Homo sapiens: one gene and its partners. The protein of the gene in region 5 interacts with the protein of the main gene of each other region in a biochemical or structural test. Each region holds a gene or a part of one and is shown on either strand. Other genes may lie near its edges.

Evidence for each region.
Region 1: of the proteins of MAP3K1 (region 5) and RAD51AP1, one has a biochemical effect on the other in vitro, tested with the Homo sapiens proteins (one large-scale study listed by BioGRID).
Region 2: of the proteins of MAP3K1 (region 5) and STAM, one has a biochemical effect on the other in vitro, tested with the Homo sapiens proteins (one large-scale study listed by BioGRID).
Region 3: of the proteins of MAP3K1 (region 5) and RNF114, one has a biochemical effect on the other in vitro, tested with the Homo sapiens proteins (one large-scale study listed by BioGRID).
Region 4: of the proteins of MAP3K1 (region 5) and APPL1, one has a biochemical effect on the other in vitro, tested with the Homo sapiens proteins (one large-scale study listed by BioGRID).
Region 6: the proteins of MAP3K1 (region 5) and GSK3B form a complex in vitro, tested with the Homo sapiens proteins (one study listed by BioGRID).
Region 7: of the proteins of MAP3K1 (region 5) and SPART, one has a biochemical effect on the other in vitro, tested with the Homo sapiens proteins (one large-scale study listed by BioGRID).

Annotation. Positions count from the first base shown.
Region 1 is NC_000012.12:4,545,390-4,548,889, reverse strand, and holds part of RAD51AP1 (RAD51-associated protein 1), read right to left. Parts: intron 3,109-3,500; coding exon of another isoform or gene 3,058-3,108; intron 2,582-3,057; coding exon 2,472-2,581; intron 799-2,471; coding exon 712-798; intron 204-711; coding exon 54-203; intron 1-53. UniProt on the Homo sapiens protein: Structure-specific DNA-binding protein involved in DNA repair by promoting RAD51-mediated homologous recombination.
Region 2 is NC_000010.11:17,706,651-17,710,150, reverse strand, and holds part of STAM (signal transducing adapter molecule 1), read right to left. Parts: intron 1,376-3,500; coding exon 1,200-1,375; intron 1-1,199. UniProt on the Homo sapiens protein: Involved in intracellular signal transduction mediated by cytokines and growth factors. Upon IL-2 and GM-CSL stimulation, it plays a role in signaling leading to DNA synthesis and MYC induction. May also play a role in T-cell development.
Region 3 is NC_000020.11:49,949,897-49,953,396, forward strand, and holds part of RNF114 (E3 ubiquitin-protein ligase RNF114), read left to right. Parts: intron 1-2,179; coding exon 2,180-2,245; 3' UTR 2,246-3,500. UniProt on the Homo sapiens protein: E3 ubiquitin-protein ligase that promotes the ubiquitination of various substrates. In turn, participates in the regulation of many biological processes including cell cycle, apoptosis, osteoclastogenesis as well as innate or adaptive immunity.
Region 4 is NC_000003.12:57,265,729-57,269,228, reverse strand, and holds part of APPL1 (DCC-interacting protein 13-alpha), read right to left. Parts: intron 1,488-3,500; coding exon 1,437-1,487; intron 888-1,436; exon of another isoform or gene 832-887; coding exon 742-831; exon of another isoform or gene 1-741. UniProt on the Homo sapiens protein: Multifunctional adapter protein that binds to various membrane receptors, nuclear factors and signaling proteins to regulate many processes, such as cell proliferation, immune response, endosomal trafficking and cell metabolism.
Region 5 is NC_000005.10:56,888,549-56,892,048, reverse strand, and holds part of MAP3K1 (mitogen-activated protein kinase kinase kinase 1), read right to left. Parts: intron 1-3,500. UniProt on the Homo sapiens protein: Component of a protein kinase signal transduction cascade. Activates the ERK and JNK kinase pathways by phosphorylation of MAP2K1 and MAP2K4. May phosphorylate the MAPK8/JNK1 kinase.
Region 6 is NC_000003.12:119,912,948-119,916,447, forward strand, and holds part of GSK3B (glycogen synthase kinase-3 beta), read right to left. Parts: intron 3,228-3,500; coding exon 3,097-3,227; intron 1-3,096. UniProt on the Homo sapiens protein: Constitutively active protein kinase that acts as a negative regulator in the hormonal control of glucose homeostasis, Wnt signaling and regulation of transcription factors and microtubules, by phosphorylating and inactivating glycogen synthase (GYS1 or GYS2), EIF2B, CTNNB1/beta-catenin, APC, AXIN1, DPYSL2/CRMP2, JUN, NFATC1/NFATC, MAPT/TAU and MACF1.
Region 7 is NC_000013.11:36,308,395-36,311,894, reverse strand, and holds part of SPART (spartin), read left to right. Parts: intron 1-3,500. UniProt on the Homo sapiens protein: Lipophagy receptor that plays an important role in lipid droplet (LD) turnover in motor neurons.

The DNA of each region.
Region 1 (3,500 bases), on a different chromosome or scaffold from region 5:
ACTTTTTTGACTGAATTCCCATAGAATTAATTTCGAAGTAGAATAAAACCTACCAGGTGCAAAGTCTGGTTCAGTGTCATTAGCACTATCACCATCACTGCCTTCCAGAAGAATCTTCCTCTGCTGTGCTGCAGCTTTAGATGCTGCTTTTCTTTTCCCTTGAACACCACCAACATCATCTTCCACAGTAATCTTATCCAAATCTTCAGGAGAGGCATAAAAATCAATGGAAAACTTTCTGTGACAACTGATATTTCAAGAACTGCAGACCAGACTCTATTACAGCTATTGTTTTTATTTGCCCAGGTTCATCCCTCCCATGCTTCCAGTAATAGACTATTAGCCCAATCTGGGTCAACCATGGTACATCAGTGCCCTGGGAACACCTCTAGTTTTAGGGATAAATCCAAGACCCAAACAGAGATAATCTTTCCCCCAAAATTTTCAAACTAGAATTGGGAATATGCAGCCCCTTTCTTCAAAGGTCAGTTGCTCCAACTAGAAGCCACGGGTAGTTATGACCCTTCAGGGAAGAATGTGTGTCTGCAGTACGACAGAATGAGACTAAAACACAAAGAAATAAAGGCCATGACATCAAGAGAGTCTTGACAAATTTAAAGAACTTGCTTCTAGCCACAATTTCAGCAATTTAAACAAAAGTCAGAGAAACAGCATTGTTGATGAGAAAAATTATTAATATAAAAAACTTACCTAAATAATCACTGGCTACACTGCAATTAGAGATATGAGGAGACTTATTCATTGTTTCTATTTTACTACTGCCATGTTTTTCAATGCCTAAATATAAGGAATAAGAAAGAAAATTCAGATATATCTTAATCAATGTCTAGATATAGGAAAATTAGTACTAAAATGTAATAGCATTTAGATATAAATAAATGATCCCAAACTCCAACTGGCACAATAATTTTATTCAGAGAGGTTAACATATGGTTAGAAGTCTGGGCTCTGAAATCTAACATGTTTAAATTCAGGCTCTACCATGTAAACTGGCTATATGACCATGGGCAAGTTGCTTATCCTAAGACTGAATTTCCTCATCTATAATGTGGAGATAAAAATAGTGTCTTACCCAGTGGTATTACAGAAGACCAAATGTGGATCTCACATAGGAATTGCTTATTATTGTGCCTAATATACAGGAAATGGTCAATAAACTATCAATTCTGTGTAGGCAAATCCATGCTTTTACTAACGTTAAGAACTCTCCAATCGTTATAATAACCTTAAAATGACCCAAAGCATTCTAAGAGGACTTTAAGACATAATAATTGGTACTATTAAATTCCAATGCTATAAGGTGCATTATTTAATAAGAAATGGTATAATATTAATACTTCTAAGGAACTCCCCTTATACATTCTACAATGTCTTAAAAGAGAGAGATGAATTTCAGTGCCTCCATTTTAAATGTAATTCATGATAATTCTCTTTTGATGTTTCTTTGATTCTTGGTTACTAAAAGTCTTCCTAATCAAACTTTCATTTCTTTTTAAAGAGGAGGCAGCCAGATAAGGTGGCTCTCGCCTGTAATCCCAGCACTTTGGGAGGCTGAGGCAGGAGGATTGCTTGAGGCTGGGAGTTTGAGGGCAGCATGCGCAACATAGTGAGACCCCTCTCTACAAAATAAAAAATTAGCCAGGCATGGCGGCACATGCCTGTAGTCCCGGCTACTCAGGAGGCTGAGGCAGGAGGACTGCTTGAGCCTAGGAGGTCAAGGTTGTATTGAGCCATGATCATGCCACTGTATTCCTGCCTGGATGACAGAGAGAGACCCTGTCTCAAATAAATAAATAAATAAGGAGGCAGTACTGATTTAAGAAACAAAGAAAAAAGCTCCATGTATACCCCTAAATAAGATAATAAGCTAAAATATCCCCCAACATAAAAACTTTAAGCCAAAAAGCATTTTAGCAGTAGAGTATCTTTTTCAGGAATAATGATTTCTGCCTCTCTAGAATATTAATATATTGCCAGAAAAATCAAAGGAGAAAATCAACAGAGAAATCCAAAAGCCATTCTCTTAAGTCTACTGAACTTGCTAACCAAATTAATACCTTTGACCTTTGTAAGTAATAAAAATTACCATAATTAGGGTATGTTTAACTGATCTGGAAAAAATGGAGATGGATTGTTAGGACTGTACAGATCAAATCATTTGATGAAGAAATTAAATGTTCACTGTACAACAACATATAATTCGAACACTGAGGCTCACAGTCCGTGCCCTCAAGCTTATTCTGGGTGTTAAGCAGAGATGTATGTCTGTTTGTATGAGATTTAGGCAGCTGAATTAAGAACTAAATCCAATCGTATTCTCTGCAAATGGGTCTATTTATAGTGCAAAGTATTCACATTTTACCTGTTTCCTCTGTGAAGGCCCACCCAAACAAATAATCACAAAAGCATTAAGAAGGTTTTAAAGCTAAATATACAGAAAATAAAGTTACTTTTATCTTGAGAGTTCTGCACATTAGTGGTGACTGTTGGAAGTTCCTTCACTGATAAAGCTAGTGCAACTTCTAAGTCTCTCTGGTAGAGCTTGTCATCTAAAGCCATCCTAAAATAGATACACAAGTAATAATGAGTTCTTCAAAATATCAATCTCAACTAAAGAGCAAAGTTTGAGATTTCTCCAAATTACTATTCAAGAGTTGCTAACTTCGCAAAAATGTTTTTAAACAATCATCATTAATAGACCTTTGATGATAAGATAAGACTCCTAAAATGTCACAGTATCATGTTACATACAGAATAAGAGGTTTGAAATAGGAGGACCATGTGCCTCTTTGCAATGACTGTTCCCTTTCATTGTAATGTGTCACCTTACTACCAGCTGTGTCCAGGTGGGAAACACCCTACTCAACCCAAAACAGACTTGGTTCAAACATCACTTCCACTTAAAACTCTTCCTTGACCTCACCCACTCCCCTTTAGCAGATTTTATAGCTCTTACATTAAATTAAAATTATTATCATTTTTTTACATCTCTTCCTCCCAATCCAGACTTTAACAAATATTTTACCAAGCACTTACTTTGTACAAGGCACTGCACTAGCTGGAATACTAAAAGTACCTTCAGGGAGTCTGCAATTAAAGGAGGAGGGTGGGGAAACAAGACATGCTAATAATTATCCTATAAAAGGCAGACTATAAAGTCCTATTCAAGCTGCTCAAAAGTGCTATGGAGTATAAGAGGAAGAAAACGTCAAAGACAGATAAGGAAAAGTTACATAAAGGAAGAAGCACTGAGATGTACCTTAAAGAATTTATTTTTTTAGAATAACAGTTTTCTTAAGATATAATTCACATATCATAAAGTTTACCTTTTAAAGTAAACAATTCAGCAGTTTTTAGTACATTCACAGAGCTGTAAAACCACCAACACTACCTAATTTCAGAACATCTTTATTACCCCAAAAAGAAACCCCATACCCATTAGCATTCACTTCCTGTTTACCCCTCTCCCCTCCTAGCAA
Region 2 (3,500 bases), on a different chromosome or scaffold from region 5:
AGTTCCGGCTAATACTAAAATAGCTGCAGGGTCCTATTAAGTCAGGAACCCTAGTGTCTTCTCAACAATTCCTACCTTCTAGCCCCTTTGTATCTAGTTGTAAAGCAACATGCTACTCTAAGAACAGCTGTTTATTTTCCAGAAGGGTATTCATTTCCACCAGATTTCAACTTAAAAAAAAATCCTGCAAGAGTGCAAGCTACACTTAACACTTTTTTCTAAGATACAGAACCCACTAGGGAATGCCCTGTTTTCTGACATGTGGGCCTTGCCATCATCCCCCTTAAGGTCACTTCGGGATACTAGATCTGACAACCGAATAATGCTTGAAAATCCCCAAGCATCTCTAACACGTAACTCTTTGAGGATGAGTAGTGCAAGAGAGGGCAGTGCAGGAGCATTCCTGGGCAATCCTAACACTGCTGGAAAGGTTTCTAGAAGTTGTGCCTGTGCTACCTAGAAACTTCTGTTGCCAGCTAGAATGTCGTAACTTCTAGAATACACGTTGGTAAACTCTTAAAAGCCTATCCTTTATTTGCTTCAAGGAAAAGATTTCAGCTCAGAGTCCCATTAAAGCAGAAAAAACACACAATAATCATTTAACTACATGACAGACAGCACTGTAAGTAAATGGCAAAGTAAATGGGCCTCTGTCATCACATATTCAGCCATCTGCCTCCTGAGAAACAAGGGTGCTTACCTTCTTATTATCTTCTTGTTTCAAATGGGGTACCTTGATATAATATAAACTAAATTCCAAAACAGGGCAAAAATAAGAAAATATTTGTCTTAAAGAGACAGCTCAGAACTATATATTTTAAAATAACGGAATTTAGATTTTATACAAAATGTGTGGAAAAATGACAAATTATAGTCACTAAACATAAATTTCATTAAAGACATTATCAAATATCATAGATGCAAATAAAAACAACAATAAAAACTTATGGTTAGAGTAGTATTAAAAATATAAGGCTGAAACCAGATTACATGAGTTGAGCGAGTCGGGAGCAGAGGACCAGCTTGCTGGCTGGTACTGGAATACCACAGAGGCTCCACCACTCATTAGCACAAATGGGGCGGCCGCATGACGCTGACCACAGATATTTATTAGCCAGATTTTATAGTTATAGATAACTGGGGGCACTTAAACAGCTGTAACAGCACTAACTCCAAACAAGAATCAACAGTAAAATTACTTTGGGTAAGCGGCCTGAGTCTGCTGACTAGGAAGGGCTGGGTTTGCGGATGGTGGGACCACTGCCTGGCTGAGAGAAGACAGCTGCTCCGGGGGAAGACTGTAGCTCTGGAGGTGGCTCATCTGCGCGTTCCCTGCAACCAGGTAGGCACCACTTGGAGGAGGCCCTGCATACACCTGCGATGGTTAAAGAGAAATCATATTCAATTCTAAAATTTTAATAAGCATACTGAACTTTCTCTGTAGAGGTATTCAGTTACAAAAACAAGAAAAATCACCACTCTGGAATCCTTTTTTCAAAGTTATTTCTGTCAACGGGCATTTTGAAAAACGCTTTTCAATGAAATAGGCTGTTGATGGTTTTCATTTTTAGTTAAACATATGCTAAACTCATGTTATCTCCATACTGAAGCATTAAAGAAACTTATCCTGAAACTTTATACTAATCTCCCTTTACATTAAATATATTTTAATATTCTGCATGTTGGTATTTTTTAAGGAATCCCAAAGGATATTTAGAAAGTGTATTTGAACTCATTGTTTTGTAGCCATAGACTGCAATGGATACAAGTCACATTTCCTAAACTGCAGTTTATTGAACAATAGAGCAAGCTAACTTTCTAAAGCAGGGGTCAGCAAACTTTTTTGTAAAGGGCCTGACGTAAATATTTTAAGTTTTGTGGACCATGTAGTCTCTGACACAACTACTCGGCTCTGTCAGTAAATCAGAGTGGCTGTGTTCTGATAAAAGTTTATTTAAAGCCGCCAGGCATGGTGGCTCATGCCTGTAATCCCAGCACTTTGGGAGGCCGAGGCAGGCAGATCACGAGGTCAGGAGATCGAGACCATCCTGGCTAACACAGTGAAACCCCGTCTCTACTAAAAATACAAAAAATTAGCCAGGCGTGGTGGCGGGCGCCTGCAGTCCCAGCTACTCGGGAGGCTGAGGCAGGAGAATGGCCTGAACCCAGGAGGCGGAGCTGGCAGCGAGCTGAGATCGCGCCACTGCACTCCAGCCTGGGCGACAAAGCAAGACTCCGTCTCAAAAAAAAGTTTATTAAAAAAAAAAAAAACAGGCAACAGGCTGGATTTGTCTACTTCTGTATTTCAAAATGCATTTTTTTAATCTAAAGAGATTGAAGTCTTAACTACCCAAAGTCTAAAACACATAATGTCCTAATTTTCTGCAGTATTCATTAGATCCTTCCATTTAGCACTTCTGTTAAACGACAGACCCACACAGGGATCCAAAGGGTCTTCATTATAAACACAGCTATACCAGTCCTCCTAACTTTATTTTGTCATTCTTCGAAAATTGAACATGAAGGTTTTTTGCTTCCTTGTCTCAAACTGGTGATCAAGACTCTAAAGCAGGTGCCCTCTAGCCCCAAGTTTCTTGGGCCTAGCTGTTCATCTACAGGGTGCTGGCCCCTCATTCTGCTAAACGTTAATCTGAACACAGTCCGTGCCCACTTTACATGGAAAAAATGGAGTATCTGGCTAGTTTTGTTTTTATTTATTATTATTATTATTATTATTTTTTGAGGTGGAGTCTTGCTCTGTCGCCCAGGCTGGAGTGCAATGGCACGATCTCGGCTCACTGCAACCTCCGCCTCCCGGGTTCATGCCATTCTCCTGCCTCAGCCTCCCAAGTAGCTGGGACTATAGGCACCCACCACCACGCCAGGCTAAATTTTTTGTATTTTGAGCAGAGACAGGGTTTCACCATGTTAGCCAGGATGGTCTCCATCTCCTGACCTCGTGATCCACCCGCCTCGGCCTCCCAACGTGCTGGGATTACAGGTATGAGCCACCGCACCCGGCCAGTATCTGGCTAGTTATTCCCTATAACCTCACCTCACCGTGATGAGTTTGTGAAAAGGGGGTCCTTGAAATAGTTGCTTGGGGTGAAAAGAAAGCAAACGGCTCTACACTGCATTGCATGCATTCTCATGTAAAGCAGGGAAAATTCCAGATTAAAGCAGTTTTTAAATTATGGAAATATATTTTGTTGGTTTGTAATAATAAAAACAGGTTTTTACCTCATTTTTTTTTCACTGCATTTAAGTTTTCCTTTTAAGGATAACTAGAAGTTCATTAGATATTTAAGAGAGTTTTCTTAGCTCTAAAAGCATTTTGTGTTTTTTACGAAACTACTTTATTGAGATATGTCTGACCTGCAAAAGGCTATACATATTGAGTGTACACAACCTGATGAAGAACTAAGGTTCTTAAGTAAATAATTACATACGAAGCTTTAAAAATATGGGCCTCGGCCGGGCGCGATGGCTCACACCTGGAA
Region 3 (3,500 bases), on a different chromosome or scaffold from region 5:
CCTCCCAAAGTGTTGGGATTACAGGCGTGAGCCACCACGCCCGGCCCAGAGTGACATTTAAGAAGATGATCTGGGCTGGGCGCAGTGGCTCACACCTGTAATCCCAGCACTTTGGGAGGCCGAGGTGGGCGGATCCTGAGGTCGGGGGTTCGAGACCAGCCTAGCCAACATAGTGAAATCCCGTCTTTACTAAAAATACAAAAAAATTAGCCAGGTGTGGTGGTGGGCACCTGTAATCCTAGCTACTTGGGAGGCTGAGGCAGGAGAATCGCTTGAACCTGGGAGGCAAGGTTGCAGTGAGCCAATATCGTGCCACTGCACTCCAGCCTGGGCAACAGAGCAAGACTGTCTCAAAACAAACAAGAAGATGATCTGGTCAGTCTTTGAGACAGAGACAGTGATACTTGCTCTTTCCATCTCCTAGCCCTGCCACCAAATTTTTGTCTACTTTTCTTGTGGTTTATATAATTTCTGCCTGTTATAGAACTTGGTTTGGGGACAGGTGCGGTGCAGTGGTTCATACCTACAATCCTAGCATTTTTGGGAGGCTGAGGCAGGTGGATCGCTTGAGCTCAGGAGTTCGAGACCAGCCTGGGCAACATGGGAAAACCTTGTCTCTGCAAAAAATACAAAAAGTAACCAGGTGTGGTGGCTCCTACCTGTAGTCCTAGCTACTTTGAGGGAGCTGGGACAGGAGGATCTCTTGAGCCCAAGAGACGGAGGTTGCAGCAAGCTGAGATCATGCCACTGCACTCCAGCCTGGGCAACAGAATGAGACCCTGTCTCAAAAAAAAAAAAAAAAAACAAAACACACACACACAACAACAATTTGGACTTGGGAGGCTCAATCTCGCATGTCCATGGGGACCATAATTGAAATGATCCTCCTGAGGATTTCCAAGCCAGGTGGTGCCTGACTCGTTATGCTGCCATCACCTTGTTTTCCTATGGAAATGCAGGCGCAGCATTGCCTAGCTTCTCCACCCCCCATGCCCAAGCAGGACAGGAAAATTTCACAGGAGGTTTCACAGGTTTTAATTATCTTCAAAAATACTTCAGGTCAAATAGCATATATCCACTAGCCAAATACGGCTGTCAGGTTTATATTCTTTCCCTAGAGCTGGATGGTTTCAAAGGGGCACACTGTTGTCTTGCCATTATAGTAGTAGGTAACTTTGGCCAACTATATCAAGTAAACCTCTTACTTACATATATAGATGTCAAGTTAGGATTTTAGAGTGGTATTCGGTCTTGATGGCTGAATTTCAGTATCTAAGAAAGAAAGCTCTCTGCTAAATTGTCATAAAGAATATTTTTTCTCAGTCTGACAGTGTCTGAAACTCAGACTTCAGAATAACTGCCCTTTTTGTTAATGTGACACAGATGAATTACATTCATCTGTGTCACATTAACAAAAATGACTCATTAAAAATGAGTCCTAAAAATGACTCATTAAAGAGGGCTAGTTGCGCTATAGTTTCTGCTGTATTGTATGGCTCTAAAAATCTGATTCTGTACTGTGCACTGATTCCACCTCTCAGAAACAACTCTTCAGCTCAGTGCATCTGCGTGCTCTGTTCCGACAGACTTACAAATGTTCTGAGCACTTGGTCTGTGCCAGCCTCCATTCGTGTGCTGTCTGGGTTTCTCAATCTCCATTTAAGGGAGGCATCCTTAACTTCATTTAAGAATCAGGCAGCAGACTGGGTGCAGTGGCTCATGCCTGTAATCTCAGCACTTTGGGAGGCCAAGGCGGGTGGATCACGAGGTCAAGAGATTGAGACCATCCTGGCCAACATGGTGAAACCCTGTCTCTACTAAAAACATAAAAATTAGCTGGGCATGGTGGCGCACGCCTGTTAGTCCCAGCTACTCGGGAGGCTGAGGCAGGAGAATCACTTGAACCTGGGAGGCAGAGGTTGCAGTGAGCCAAGACTGTGCCACTGCACTCCAGCCTGGCAACAGAGCGAGACTCCATCAAATAAAAAAAAAGAGAAGGCAGCAGAGACAGATTAATTTTCCCAAAGTTACATACCTAGCATCACAAACAGTTGCACTGGGGATCCGGTCCCTGGCAACCTGCTCCGGATCCAGTTGCTAGGCTGTCCTGCTTCTACTGAAAGCCAGTCTTTGCATCTAGAAACAGTTGCTGAGGCTGCATGTCTCTTTTTGCCCTTAGGATTATGATGTTGATGAAGAGGACATGATGAATCAGGTGTTGCAGCGCTCCATCATCGACCAGTGAGCAGAGTCCGTGCTTGCTATCTGTCTCATGTTACAGAGCTTCCATTACATATTAAACGTGAAATCTATGACTCCTGTACCTTACCTGTTCAACAGACCTGAAAATGAGCCATGGCATTGGGACAGGGTCACTTCTGACAGGGGAAGTGGGTCCCCAGGTCAGCCCTTCTCTTCCCTTTGGGCTCTTGCCAAAGCTGTCTTCCCCTACTGTTAACCTTGTTTGTCACACGGTCGAGTTCGTATTGGTTCTCGGCTACTTCCTGGAGCTTCTGCCGCCTCCTGTGGAAGATAATCTAGCTTCTCCACCTCTTGTTTCACACTCATTCCTCCCATCCAGTGTTTGTCTCTCGGGTCCTTCAAGCCAGCCAGGACCTTTTCTGGGTCATGAATAGCACAATGAAGCAAGTGTCTCCTTTCCTTGTCCCCAAGGTGTGCAGACTTTGGCAGCCGTGCACCTGACCAGAGCTGAAGCTCCCGCTGGGCTGTGGGGTTGCCAGAAGCTGGGGTTGCCATCCCGGGGTACATGTCACCAGTCCTCTTGGGGTTTTGTACCATCTGATGCTGGAAGTTTTGATTAGTGATATTTTCTACTACTACATATTTAGAGTTCACTGGTTCAGTCTTAAATGCCTGCATGGTGCCTTTTTAGGATAAGGTATAACCATACATTTTTGGTGGAAGTGTTTCTGGGTTAGGGAAGTTAAAGTCTGTTTATCCGTAAGTGGGGAGGAGGGTCAGCTAAGAGAAGTGGGAGGGCCAGAGCTTTTTGGTTCTGATTTACAAATTAATGAAGTAGTTTCAAACAACGCGGTCATGTTTACCTCTCCATTTGGGAGCCTGCCTACATTCTTGTTCTAGAAGCACAAAAAATCCTCAGATGAATTAGAAGAAAGAGGTTTGGGGACTCAGCGGATACTAGTTCTTTTACCTTCTGCTTGGTAACTTAGATTAAACTGAGCATTGTTTTTCTGTCACAAATGTTTTCCTTATGACACTGGTTTCGACATGTAAAATGTGTTTGAAAACCTGCTTTGTAGATGCAGAGAGAAGCTATAGGAAACCCAGTACCACCCCTGGTCTGTTCTGACGAGACATCGTTCATAAGGCACAGCACATCGCAAGATGAACAGTTGTTAATAAAAGCTGTTGCTGGAAACTTGCTTTAGGAACAGCTCAAGAACCTTGGAGTTCATATTTCACAAATATTAATAAATATAAGTCCAAGAGCTGTCAGCCTAATCTGTAGGAGCAGAACC
Region 4 (3,500 bases), on a different chromosome or scaffold from region 5:
ACCCCCACACTCCTTTCCCTTCCCCTCTCCAGCCCTTTTCTCCATCCCTGTCCAATTCATCTTTGCTAAATCAGGTGTCACCTTCCCTCAGCCTCGCCTATCAAGAAAGCCTCACTTCAATGTCATCTTTGCCACTTCCCTCTTCTTTGTCCAGAGAGCCAGCCCACAGCCAATGCTTATTGATCTGTTCTAAGCATCCCAGCTGTCTCCTCTTTTCTATTCCTACTGTCAATCTACAACCCATAACACGCTCTTACAATTTCATGGATCATTTAATGCATTCTTCAAGTTTTGCTCTGAAATTTGTCTTTTAAAATTATTCTGTTGGATGGACAATGATTTGACACTCCTGGCAATATTAAAAATATACATTTCATTATATATTTCATATAACATATATATTTATTTATTTCCCCCCCATAGAAGGCAAAATGGCTTTCAGCAATGGCAGTTAAGTCTACACAGCCTCTCAACTGCTTTGACAGAGACAACCTCCTCTGAAATATTAAAGTTCTGGTATATTTTTGAAACAGTCATATTACATGTCAACGTAACTATAATGTAAACATCATATCAAAAAACAGATGTGACCCTTTTCTGCTATGGTATGAATCATCTGTTTATGAAGTGGCTGAACAAGCAGAAACAGCCCTTCATTTGGAAATTCAAATCTGAAAGTCATAGTGCTGAATTAAGTCTTCACAAACAACACATAAAGATCCAGACATTAGGACTGTATACCTTTTCAATCTGTTTTTGTTTATTGAGTTCTTTCTGTTGCTTCTCTTTTACTCTCTCTATTTCTTTTTGTTTTTCTGATGCCCTACGATCCTAAAGAACAGATGAATAAAACTAATGAATTAAATATGAAATAACTTTAAATTTTAGACATTTCAGTTAATATCACATGGTAACCTTTCAATATTTTTTTGCATTTATACATAAGAAAGCACATCAACAGTTTATATTCAATGGTAAACAATTATCCAAATTCTAAATGCTATGTTGGTAATAGTATCACTGTTAACCTTGCTTAGCAAAATCATTTTATTTACTTGCTAATATGAAAGAGCTAATATACTATTTTAGTTAACATTCTTGGAAAATCAAGCATCTTGGATTCCTTTTTTTTTTTTGAGATACAGTCTCGCTCTGTTGCCCAGGCTGGAGTGCAGTGGTGTGATCTCGGCTCATTGCAACCTCCGCCTCCCGGATTCAAGTCATTCTCGTGCCTCAGACCTCCTCAGTAGCTGGGATTACAGGTGCACGACACCACACCCAACTAATTTTTGTATTTTTAGTAGAAATGGGGTTTCACCATGTTGGCCAGGTTAGTCTCGAACTCCTGACCTCAAGTCATCTGCCCGCCTCGGCCTCCCAATGTGCTGCGATTACAGGTGTGAACCACTGTGCCCAGCCACATCTTGGATTCTTACCAGTTCAGCATGCAAAGCTATCTGTTTTGCCAGTCCAACAGAATCACATATCTAAAAAGAGAAAAAGTATGAAAAATTCAGGCAGTTCTCACAACAAAGCAAAAATGTCAAGTATCCAAATAACTGATGGAACTAGTTTTATAACTAATCCTAATACATTGCTTCAAGCAAAAGCATATTTAAGAATGCTCAAGCCCCCAAACCAAGGCTTTGTATGTTTTCCTTGAAGTCTACAGGATTCCACTGCTGACTCTCACCTTCATATATACCCCACTTCTTGTTATGTCAAATTCATTACTGTCACAGTAAGGCCTACGAGGAAGAAGCATGCAGCTGCTAATGCTATTCTCAGCTGAAGACATCTGAAAATGGCTGGTTTTGGTTCCCAACATAATGTTTGGTTCCCAACATAAATGAGAGGCTAAAAGATTGCACCAGCTATCAGTGGCAGGGAAAACATGGGTCTGTAGAGTCAGAAGGCCCAAACCATCAGCTTGGCTCTATTCAGAGATGCTTTGCTCAAGCAGCTCAGTAAGCCTAGGCAAAATTTGGGAGTTTTTTCCAAAAATCTTAGAATTATATAAGAATTTTATTTACACAAAAAACTACAAAACACTGATGAAAGAGACTGAAGACACAAAAGAACATCCCATGCTCATGGATCAGAATAATATAGTTAAAATAACCATATTGCCCAAAGCAATCTATAGGTTCAATGCAAATAGCCAAAGCAATCTTAAACAAAAAGAACAAAGCTGGAGGCATCACATTACCTAACTTCAAAATATATTACAAGGCTATAGTAAGCAAAACAGCAGGGGATTGTTATAAAAATAAGACACATGGCCAATGGAACAGAATAGAGAACCCAGGAACGAAGCCACTTGTTTACAGCCAACTGATCTTTAACAAAAGTGACAAAGAACTTTCACTGGGGAAGGGATATCCTCTTCAATAAATGGTTCTGGCAAGATTGGAGAGCCACATGTAGAAGAATGAAACCAGACCCCTCCCTCTCACCATACACAAAAATCAACTCAAAATACATTAAAGACTTAAACATAAGACCCAAAACTATAAAAATACTACAAGAAATTATAAGGATCAGAGCAGAAATAAATGAATCTGACATGAAGAAAACAATACAAAAGATCAACATAACAAAAAGTTGGTTTCTTTGAAAAGATAAAACTGACATTTAGCCAGACTAAGAAAAAGAAGACTCAAATAAAATTGGAGATTAAAAAGGTGACATTACAATTGATACTGCATAAATTCAAAGGATCATTCGTGGCTACTATGAGCAACTACATGCTAGTAAATTGGAAAATCAAGAAGAAATGGATAAATTCCTAGACAAATACAACCTACCAAGATTGAACCACGAAGAAATCCAAAACCTGAACAGTCCAATAACAAGTAACAAGATCCAAACCATAATAAAAAGTCTCCTGGTAAAGAAAAGCCCAGTACCTGATGGCTTTCCTGCTGAATTCTACCAAACATTTAAAGAAGAACTAATACCAATCTTACCCAAAATGTTCCAAAAAATAGAGGAGAAGGGAATACTTCCAAACTCATTCTACGAGGCCAGTATTACCTGATACCAAAACCAGACAAAGACATATCAAAAAAAGAAAACTACAGGCCAATATATCTCATGAATATTGATGCAAAAATCCTCAACAAAATACTAGCAAACCAAATTCAACAACACATTAAAAAGATCATTTATCATGACCAAGTGGGATTTATCCCAGGAATGCAAAGATAGTTCAACATATGCAAATCAATCAATATGCTACATCACATCAACAGAATAAAGGACAAAAACTATTTAATCATTTCAATTACTGCTGAAAATGCATTTGATAAAGTTCAACATCCCTTCATGATTAAAAACCCTCAAAAAAACTTGGTATAGAAGGAATATAGCTCAACATAATAAAAGCCATATATGACAGACTCACAGCTAGTATCATACTGAATGCAGAAAAACAAAAAGCCTTTCCACCTTTTAGATGGAAGATGAGTAATCAGGTAAGAGAGGAAAAAAGGCATCCA
Region 5 (3,500 bases):
TACTTAAGTTCATATGGAACCAAAAAAGAGCCCACATTGCCAAGTCAATCCTAAGCCAAAAGAACAAAGCTGGAGGCATCATGCTACCTGACTTCAAACTATACTACAAGGCTACAGTAACCAAAACAGCATGGTACTGGTGCCAAAACAGAGATATAGACCAATGGAACAGAATAGGGCCCTCAGAAATAATCCCACACATCTACAACCATCTGATCTTTGACAAACCTGACAAAAACAAGAAATGGGGAAATGATTCCCTATTTAAGAAATGGTTCTGGGAAAACTGGCTAGCCATATGTAGAAAGCTGAAACTGGATCCCTTCCTTACACCTTATAAAAAAATTCAAGATGGATTAAAGACTTAAATGTTAGACCTAAAACCATAAAAACCCTAGAAGAAAACCTAGGCAATACCATTCAGGACATAGGCATGGGCAAGGACTTCATGTCTAAAACACCAAAAGCAATGGCAACAAAAGCCAAAATTGACAAATGGGATCTAATTAAACTAAAGCGCTTCTGCAGAGCAAAAGAAACTACCATCAGAGTGAACAGGCAACCTACAGAATGGGAGAAAATTTTTGCAATCTACTCATCTGACAAAGGGCTAATATCAAGTCTGAATACTTTAAACTCACCTATCCACTCCTAATCACAAGAAAACTCTCTTTTCCCTACCCCAGTAATTTCATAAATGCTTTGGGTTAAAAAATGCAAAGTAATATAAAGAAAAATCCTCTAAGGTCTGTGATCCTGTATCATGATATACTCAGCTGATATATACACATCTTACACACCACAAAAAGGAAAAATACAAAACAAAAAAAGTCCCTCTTCCTTCTTTTCCCCAAATGTAACTTACTGATGATTTGTGTGTGTGTGTGTGGGGGGGGGGGGTGTGTGTGTGTCTGTGTGTGTTTTGTGGAGGAAAAAAGGCCAATATATTCACAGACTTAAGATTTTCTAAAATGTCTACAAAAGAGAAAACTTAATTTAGAGACAGGGTCTCGCTCTCACTGTCACCCAGGCTGAAGTGCAGTGATATGAACATGGCTCACTGCAGCTTTGACCTCCTGGGCTCAAGCGATCCTCCCACCTCAACCTCCTGAGTACCCTGGAGCACAGGTGCGTCTCACTATGCCCAGCTAATTTTTTTTTTTTTTTGGTAGAGATGGGGTCTCGCTATGCCCAGGCTGCTCTCCAACTCCTGGGTTCAAGTTTTGTTCTTGCCTCAGCCTCCCAAAGTGCTGGGATTACAGGCATGAGCCACTGTGCTTGGCCAGGATCACTTTATATACCTTGCTCTTTTCACTTATTAATGTATCTTGTAGCACTTTGTAAATCAACACCAACAGCTTCATACTCGTTTAATTTCTGTATAGTGTGGATAATTTAATTACTTTCTTGAGTAGAGTGAATAATCCTGAACTTGGCACTTGGTACTTCTAGAGGTAATCTTGAGTAAATTCCTAACAATGGGCATAGCTGAGTCAAAGAATAAGTGCATTAAAAATTCTGGCAGATATTGCCAAATCACTCTCTAAAAAAACGTGCTATGGCAATTTATACTACCATAAACAGGGTATGGAAGTGTTTGAGAAAGCTTTGGGGTGCTTCCAAAAACCTCAAAGTATTTACTCCAAATTAAGGAAACTGAAAATGTTACAGTACAATTCTCTTTAAACTCTACCTAGGAAGGAGAATGCAATGAAATCTGTTAAAATATGAACTGTGCCAATTTGAAAATTATTTACAATTGTTTCCAGGGTCTCATCAAAACTCTTAAAATAACATCAAACTTTCAAATTGATCCTAGCCATGAGTATTTATTGAGCAACTTCTGTATAAGACTCTGGGAAGAAGAAAATGAATCAGACATGAATGGACCTCAAGGAGAATTAGTTTGAAAGAGGCAGCAAGATAGGAACATAACTAGCAAACAAGAAACAAAGTGTCAGAAACAAGTATGTACTAAAATGCTATGAGAATCTGGAATGAGTAAAAAGGGGGTGCCCAAGCAGGAGAAGCACAAAATGGGGGCCTTAAAGAGAATAAGAATTTGAACCACGTAGAGAACGGACATGGGACGTCTGAAAGAATAGAGGAAATGAGGTGATAATACAAAACAGGTATTGTCAGAGAGGTGACTGAGGAGGTTATATAATAAGTGTGGGGAGCACTGGAGGAGGTTATGGCAGGTGGAGCTGACTGTGTGGGCTGAGTGCTTGACTAAGGCCTAGGTATAATTTTGTTTATCTTCATAGTAATCCCACGAAGTACATGCTTCATGGGGTTCTTGCACCAATTTTACATGTGAGAAAATGGAGGGTAGACACAAAAAATAATTTTCCTATGATTACATGGCCATTAAGGGGTAGAGCCAGGGTTTAAAACTAGGTCAGTGTGACTCCAAAGCCCATGATTTCAACCATCACATCTACTGAAAAGCTAAGAATATCAACCATTACTTATTCTATGGTGGAAAAGGAGAGAATGGATTTGTGAGTTATAAAAAAGTAGGAAAGGCAGACAGGACTGAACTGACTTGGGTGTGAATTTTTAAAATATACAAAATAGTAAATTAGGCCAGGAGTGGTGGCTCACGCCTGTAATCCCAGTACTTTGGGAGGCTGAGGTGGGCTTGAGGTCAGGAGTTCGAGACCAGCCTGGCCAATATGGTGAAACTCCATCTCTACTAAAAATACAAAAATTAGCTGGGCATGGTGGCGCGTGCCTGTAGTCTCAGCTACCTGGGAGGCTGAGGCAGGAGAACTGCCTGAACCTGGGAAGCGGAGGCTATAGTGAGCTGAGATCGTGCCACTGCACTCCAGCCTGGGCACTGCAGCGAGACTCTGTCTCAAAAACAAAAACAAAAAACAAACGAACAAAAGAAAATGGTAAATTAGATTTTAAGATTTTTGAATTATGTAAAATGCATGAATTTCACGTTTTTAAAGTGATGGATGGATATATATACACACATACATATACATATAAACACACTACATATTTCTTCTAGAAGCAGTGTTTTAGTATTTGCTAATTCAATATTTGTAGCAACTTAACAGAGCATAACTACCTCAAATAACAAGAAGTGACTATGTATGTCACTAACATTGACAACACCATTGACAATATCAACTCCTGGAAATACACACATACACAGATGCTCTTCAACTTACGCTGAGGTTATGTCGTGATAAACCCCTTTTAAGTTGATGATATTTTTTTAAGTTGAAAATGCAGTTAATACACCTAACCTGCCAAACATTATAGCTTAGTCTGGCCTACCTTGAATGTGCTTATAATACCTACATTAGCCTACTGTTCCGCAAAATCATCTGACAACACAGTCCACTATAGAGTATTGGTTGTTCACTCTCGTGATTGTGTGGCTGACTGGGAGCTGTGACTCGCTGCCACTGCCTAGCATCACCAGTGTATCATAGCACATATTGCTAGCTCAGACAAAAATCAAAATTCAAAGTATGGTTTTT
Region 6 (3,500 bases), on a different chromosome or scaffold from region 5:
GTAAACTGTAACTATCTCTAATAAAAGAAATTTACAATTTTATCACCTTGCTCTGCAAAAAAGAATAGCAATTTTTAAAGAAAGCGTTTGTCACCTAAGAAGGCACCAAAAGCAAAAAAGGATAAGTGTTGAATTTCTTCTGATCCTCTGTTCCCCAAATTCCACCTCTAAAATACAAAGAAGCAAGGGCAGAAAAGAGGTACCTCCCCCACCAAAAAGCATGACAATGGATTCTAAGAATGAATACTCCTCACCCAATGTATTTCTTTAAAAAGGGTGAGAAACTGGCCACTGTCTTGCATTTTGACTTCTGACTCACGGCGAATATTTCAAGGCTTATAGACTCAATCTATTTTTCCATATCTTGGTCAATTTATTAACCACATAAACATTTATTACCCAATAAATTATAAACAGGCCCTTCAACTTCAGGGCAGAAATGATTCACTGCCTATAAATTCTAACTCTGCTATAGTAAGTATAATTGCATGTTTTCTTATTCCAATTTTCCTACTAAAATACTTCATTGCATGTATTTTAAATATGAAGTATAATAAATTACAATTAATTTCTTTTGAGATGTCGCCCAAGATAATCCAAAGACAGAATAAAATAAACTGCTGTAGAAGCCAGCCATTCTGACATACATTAATAATAAAGATAAATAAAGGGACAAAATGCAACAAAATCAAAACAGTAAAACAGTAAGTGCCAAAAAAAAAAAGTAAAGGTACTGGAAAACCAGGGTAAAGACAGATGAAAGTAGTCACAAGGATTTCAATGACTGGGATTTCTTTTCTTCCATTTATTTCTAGTCAATGATGACTCTAACCTTAACTTCTTTTTCCTTCATCACTAGTTTTGAAGTTTGTTTTTTAACCCTCTCCCCAAGTACTGACATACAATAACCATTTCATAAATTAATAAATACTAATCCCTGTTTTTAGGCTGCATGAAAATTATGACATTTAGTTTTCAGCATAATTGATAGGAGACTGTTATATCTTCTAAAGGATGCTTTTTAATTAACAAGATAGATGCTAATTATGTTCAGAAAATTCATTACGAGACAAAACGTTAATACCCAAGCTTTGTAGCCTGAAGTTTTTTCACTACCTGATGGAGCTACAAAAACGGAGCAGCCTCTCTTACAGAGGAGACTGGTTTTAACTACTTCCCAATATTGTGATCACATCTAGCTTTTTGTTCCTAAATAGCCCAACTAGTTCTTTAGCTACTTTTTGGCCCCTTTTCATCTAGTAAAAAAATAAGAAGAAAGTAATAGTATTTTGTTCAAATTACCAATCTGATAATGTACAGTCCAAAGTGTTTCCCAAACTCCATCTGACCAAACCAATTTTGTTAAAAACAAAAAAATCAGAGGGTTTATAAAAATGAGCTATCAAACAAGCGAAATCCCTCTTCCAAATTTATCAGAATAAAGCTATTTTATGTCCCAAGAGAATGGGCTGTACCAAGTGTTTTGACACTATATGAGAACAGAAGCTCTTCTAACCTTGGTGTCTCAGTCTGTCCCTACCAAGTCAGTCACTCTCAATGGTGAAGACACCCCATTAACAATAAAACATATCTGATTTGGGCAGTTTTTCCTATAGACAAGTAGTAGTGCTTTGTTTCAAACACCAGGTAAGAGTTTTACTATCTTTCACCCTTTTTAAAAATAGTTCAGGGAACAGAGTCATGGCCTGCAAAGTGATAGGTCATCTGAAATTAGAAAACAGTAAAATGAGGACAGTCTGAAAGAGGACACATTGTGAGACTAAGAAAAATTAACTCATGACAGAACAGATTTACTTATTTTTTAAAGGATCTGTCTCAAGAGAAGCCTGTGGAAAACATATCCTATGTTAAACCCCAAATTTAAACTGTGAATTGATGTAAAAGTATTACAAAGGGATAGGAACACAGGTATTAACAAGTGTGGGGCAATATGTTATCTATAGAGCTATGGTGAAAAGAATCTGTAACAAGGGTGAAAAAATTAAATTGGAGAGAATCCAAATTATGTAAAGATGTCTTAGGGACCATGAGGAGAGAGATTAGGTGATTACACCAGTGAGGAAGTAGCGGGGTAACTGCCTGAGTTACATGGGAATGTAGGCTTGACTACATGTTAAAAGGTTAGATCAGAGAGGCACAAAGTACTGAAAACTGAAAATGGAAAGAATAAAGTTGTATTACAAATTCACAGTATATTACCAAGAAATGAGCTTTTAAAAGCAGAAAGTTTGATGAAATTTGCAGGAAAAAGGGTGGAATAAAAGGTTAAATTATAGAGGAAAATGAAGAAAACACTGCATTGTTTTTTATCTCATCCCTGAATTGAGGTTAATTGTGAAGTTAAAAAGATACACAGGAATGTATAATAATCAATATTTTGAAAAAATTTAGTTCTTACTGAAAAAGGAGTATATATACCTAATGTAAATTCAAACAATACTAAAATACAATCAATGAAAAAGTGAGTTTCCCAACTACATTATATTCCCAAAGATCCTTTCTCAGGCAATCAAATATTATGGATTACGTACCATTTCAGAAATAAGCCACACATGTACTTGTGTATATATGTGTGTGTGTACATATATATATATATAGTCACATTCTGTATGTTTTTAAAACATAAAAGGTGGCATACAATACATATACTCTTGATCTTGCTTTCTTCATTTAATGTTTCCTAGACATCATTCCCTTTCAGTTCACAGAGAGTTGCCTCATTCTTTTTCATGGTTGCATGTATTACTCTGCATGTACCGTAATTTATTTAGCCATTTTCCTACTAATGGATGCTTATAAACAATGCTATAATAAAAATCCCTATATATACACTGTATTGTAAATATGTATTCCTAAGGAAATAATTCCTAAAAGTTAAACTGTTAAATGAAGGAGTATATACATTTATAATTTTGACAGAAACTAACAAAACTACTCTCACAGCTGCACTAGTTTATACTTCTTGAATAAGAATTACTGTGTTTAGGCTGATATTGCAAAAGGAATATATTTAAAAGAAGATAGTAGGGGGAGGAGGGGAAAAGGGAAGGGGCAGGGAGAGGGACAGTAGCTTACCTTCCAAAGTCACAGAGTTTTAATACAGCAGTATCAGGATCCAACAAGAGGTTCTGCGGTTTAATATCCCGATGGCAGATTCCAAAGGAATGGATATAGGCTAAACTTCGGAACAGCTGATACATATACAACTGGAATAGATAGTAGAAATTAATTAAATACTTCCTATTCTAAACAAATCAGAATCCTTAAGCAGTCAATAAAGTAACAGATTCTCAGAAAAGAACAGGTGAAATGCTATGGATTACTGGCACTCAATCTTCCTTTCACAAGTTTTGTGTCACTTCTGTATTAATTAGCTATTTCTATATGAATTAGCTAAACTGTCATTAACCATATGTACTATTCGCTTCATTCTTTAATAACTCAAAAGAAGAAAATTTTACAATGTGCTTTATAACTTT
Region 7 (3,500 bases), on a different chromosome or scaffold from region 5:
GCTGGTCTCGAACTCCTGACCTCAGGTGATCTGCCTGCCTCAGCCTCCCAAAGTGCTGGGATTACAGGCGTAAGCCACCATGCCTGGCGGACTAAATCTCTTGTAGCATTTGTAAAAACCCATGACGGTCAAGATATTTTTATTAAGTATCTGATAAAATAATTTTTTTCACTCACTGCTTTTCTTAAATAGGGAGAAGAATAGTATTTCTAGTATAATAACAGAATTCTTGTCACTTTGCTTTATGTTACTAATCATTATAAACATTTGTTCATCATTACTGTGAAGAATAAGGTTATTTTTTTTAAAAGCCTGGAATTTCTGTATACCTTATTAACTGACTACATGTTTTTGATGGGTGATATCTGCCTGAAAAAACTTGAATTATAATTAAACTCTTATACCCCATGTTAATATTAGCCCACTCGGTATACAGACTGTTAAAAATTATGTCACATCTTACTTGACTCTGATTACCACTGTACATTTGTATTGGAATGGGTAGATGGTATATCTTCAATTTCATATATTAAGAAATGGACAAACAGAAATGAATGATTTGCACAAACTCACCTGATTAGTGTTATGATTGCTTTCTTATTTGGCCTTAAGGTCTGTCTCTGGAGAGTGGCTATAAATTCTAATCCTGCTGTGTTGTGGCTCAAGAGGAAAAAATCTCGTGAATGTTTTCAGTGTGCGTTTCACAGGATACTTCTTTATCCTGGCACACCCATGACCAGGTGTCCCTCTCTCAGGGAACTTGTTTATGGCAGATGCCCTTGTGGCTCTTTTCTGACCTGTGTCCAGTTTATTCCTACTAAGATAGCTACTCTCTAGGAGACCCTGACTAGGAGGAGAGCAAGGTTTGGGTGTGTTGGTCAGGTGACACACAGAGAAGGCAGCACAACCAAACACACGAAATAACAGAAACTTTTTATTACTCACAGACCCTTGAGAGAAGAGCGGTATGCATGAGGGCCAACAGGAAGTCTGGAGATAGCAGAGTGCTCAACCAGTGGGTGGGGCGAGGGTGGGTGAACAAGGGAGCACGAGCAAGGGAGAGGTGATTTGTGTGACTGCCTTCACGAAAGTCTATGGGTGTTCTTCCTTTGGCTTTCCAGTGGGGCCTGTGGATTGACTAGTTTAAAGAAAACAAGTGTGAACAGGGGAACATTTACATGGCTCTAGTTTTACATGACTCTAGTGTTGACCATTGGATTTTCTCGTGGTCAGCAGCTGTGGGGGTGTGTTGGGTTTTGAGTCAGTGAGATGAGAAACAAGTATACTGTATTGCAGACAACCGCATGGGGGAGAGAGAAGTTTTAACTAGGCCAAAGGTGGTGGGATACAACTAGGTTTCAAGCAACTTATGTCAGGCCTAAAAATAAATGCTGAAGCAACAACTATATAACAAATTTATACAAGTGGTATTGAAGGTGAGAGTAAAGCAGGGTCTTCTGCTTTTAGCTCCTTATTCTTTCTACCTGACTCTACTTTCTTTATACAATACTAGAAGAATCAAGGTCTAAAAAATAAATCTAGTATGAAGGACCTGAGTTGCTTTCTTAGCCTTGAATTAGTTTGGATCTTACTATTTATTTAGAAAGAAAAAAGAAGAGCAATATTGATAGTATTCACAACTCGTGGTTATTTATGTTAATTATCCACTTATTGACAGCATTTAGTTGAGTTCATACTTTTGTATTAGGCACTGTGATCATTGCTTTTCCTACGTATTAATTAATTTTCAACACTGTTATCTCCATTTTGCAGATGAGGAAACCGAAATGTAAAGTTAAATACCTTGTTAAAGATTACTCTCCTAGTGAATAGTAGAGCTGGGATATAAACCAAGTGTTTCTGTCATCAGAACCTGTGCTCTACAGTGCTAATTTAATTTCCATCCTTAATTGGTTCGATCTGCTCCGTCTGGGGCATGAATACATTTGTTTGTTTGTTTTAAGATAGGAAGTAGGAATTGCTTTATTTTTACTTTTTTTATAATTTCAACTATTATTATAGATTAAAGGGTACATGTGCAGGCTTGTTACATAGAATTTGTTGTGTGATGCTGAGGTTTGGGGTACAAATGATCCCATCACTCAGGTAGTAAGCATAGTACCCAATAGATGGTCTTTTAGCTCACACTCCCCTCCTCCCTCCCCGGCCTAGTAATCCCCAGTGTCTATTGTTGTCATCTTTATGTCCATGAGTATCCAGTGTTTATTTCCCATTTATAAGTGAGAACATGTGGTTTTCTGTTCCTGCATTAATTCGCTTAGAATAATGGCCTCCAGCTGCATCCATGTTGCTGCAAAGGATATGATTTCATTTTTTTAGGGCTGTGTAGTATTCCATGGTGTATATATTAGCATGTTTTCTTTGTGCAGTCCACTGTTGATGGGTACCTAGGTTGATCCCATGTCTTTGCTGTTATGAATAGTGCAGTGAACATGTGAGTGAGTGCATGTGTCTTTTTGATAGAACAGTTTATTTTCTTTTGGGTATCAAATGGTAATTCCATTTTAAGTTTTTTGAGATATCTCCCAAAAGTGGCTGAACTAGTTTACATTCTGGGACATACATACCTTTGAATCAAATCAAAGCAATGTGGCATATCATTTTGGAGTGTCAGTTTTTTTTTTTTTTTTGAGACGGAGTTTCACTCTGTCACCCAGGCTGGAGTGCAGTGGCGCAATCTTGGCTCACTGCAACCTCCGCCTCCCAGGTTCACACCATTCTCCTGCCTCAGCCTCCCTAGTAGCTGGGACTACAGGTGTCCGCCACCATGACCGGCTAATTTTTTGTATGTTCAGTACAGACAGGGTTTCACTGTGTTAGCCAGGATGGTCTTGATCACCTGATTTCGTGATCTGCCCACCTCGGCCTCCCAAAGTTCTGGGATTACAGGCGTGAGCCACCACACCTGGCCAGAGTATCAGTTTTACCAAGAGTTGAGAGATAAAACATACAATAGATCTCAAATTCTTCTGATAGAAATATGAAACTCAAGTCTTCCAACTCACTTCTTGTCACCTGTGGCCTGAACTCTAATATTCATTCATTGTTTTATGACCCTGAGGTTACTTTGGATCAGTCATAATTAGAAAAATAGTTCTTTATTTGTAGCAAGAACAGGAGAAATTCAGAAATGCCTTTCAGGCCAAAAGTGAATTATTTTTAGATTATCATATTAGAAAATAGGAAGTGCTTTGTTGGGTTTTATGGCCTACTCTAATGAAAAAAAAAAAAAAAAACTTACCTAACTACAATTAGCTTATTAAAAGTTTGGGATTCACATAACTAGGAAATACTGGATTTTAATGTAGATTTTGTACTTCTGGTCCTTAATGAGAACTTAATATGATAAATAGCATATTTTTAACAGTGATTCTCAGCTCATTTATTTCTATTGTATTATTGCTATTCTTTTTATCCTTTCTTCCAAAGATTCATGGAATTTAAATAAAAACCAGGTAAGTGAGAATTTAGTTAAGTAG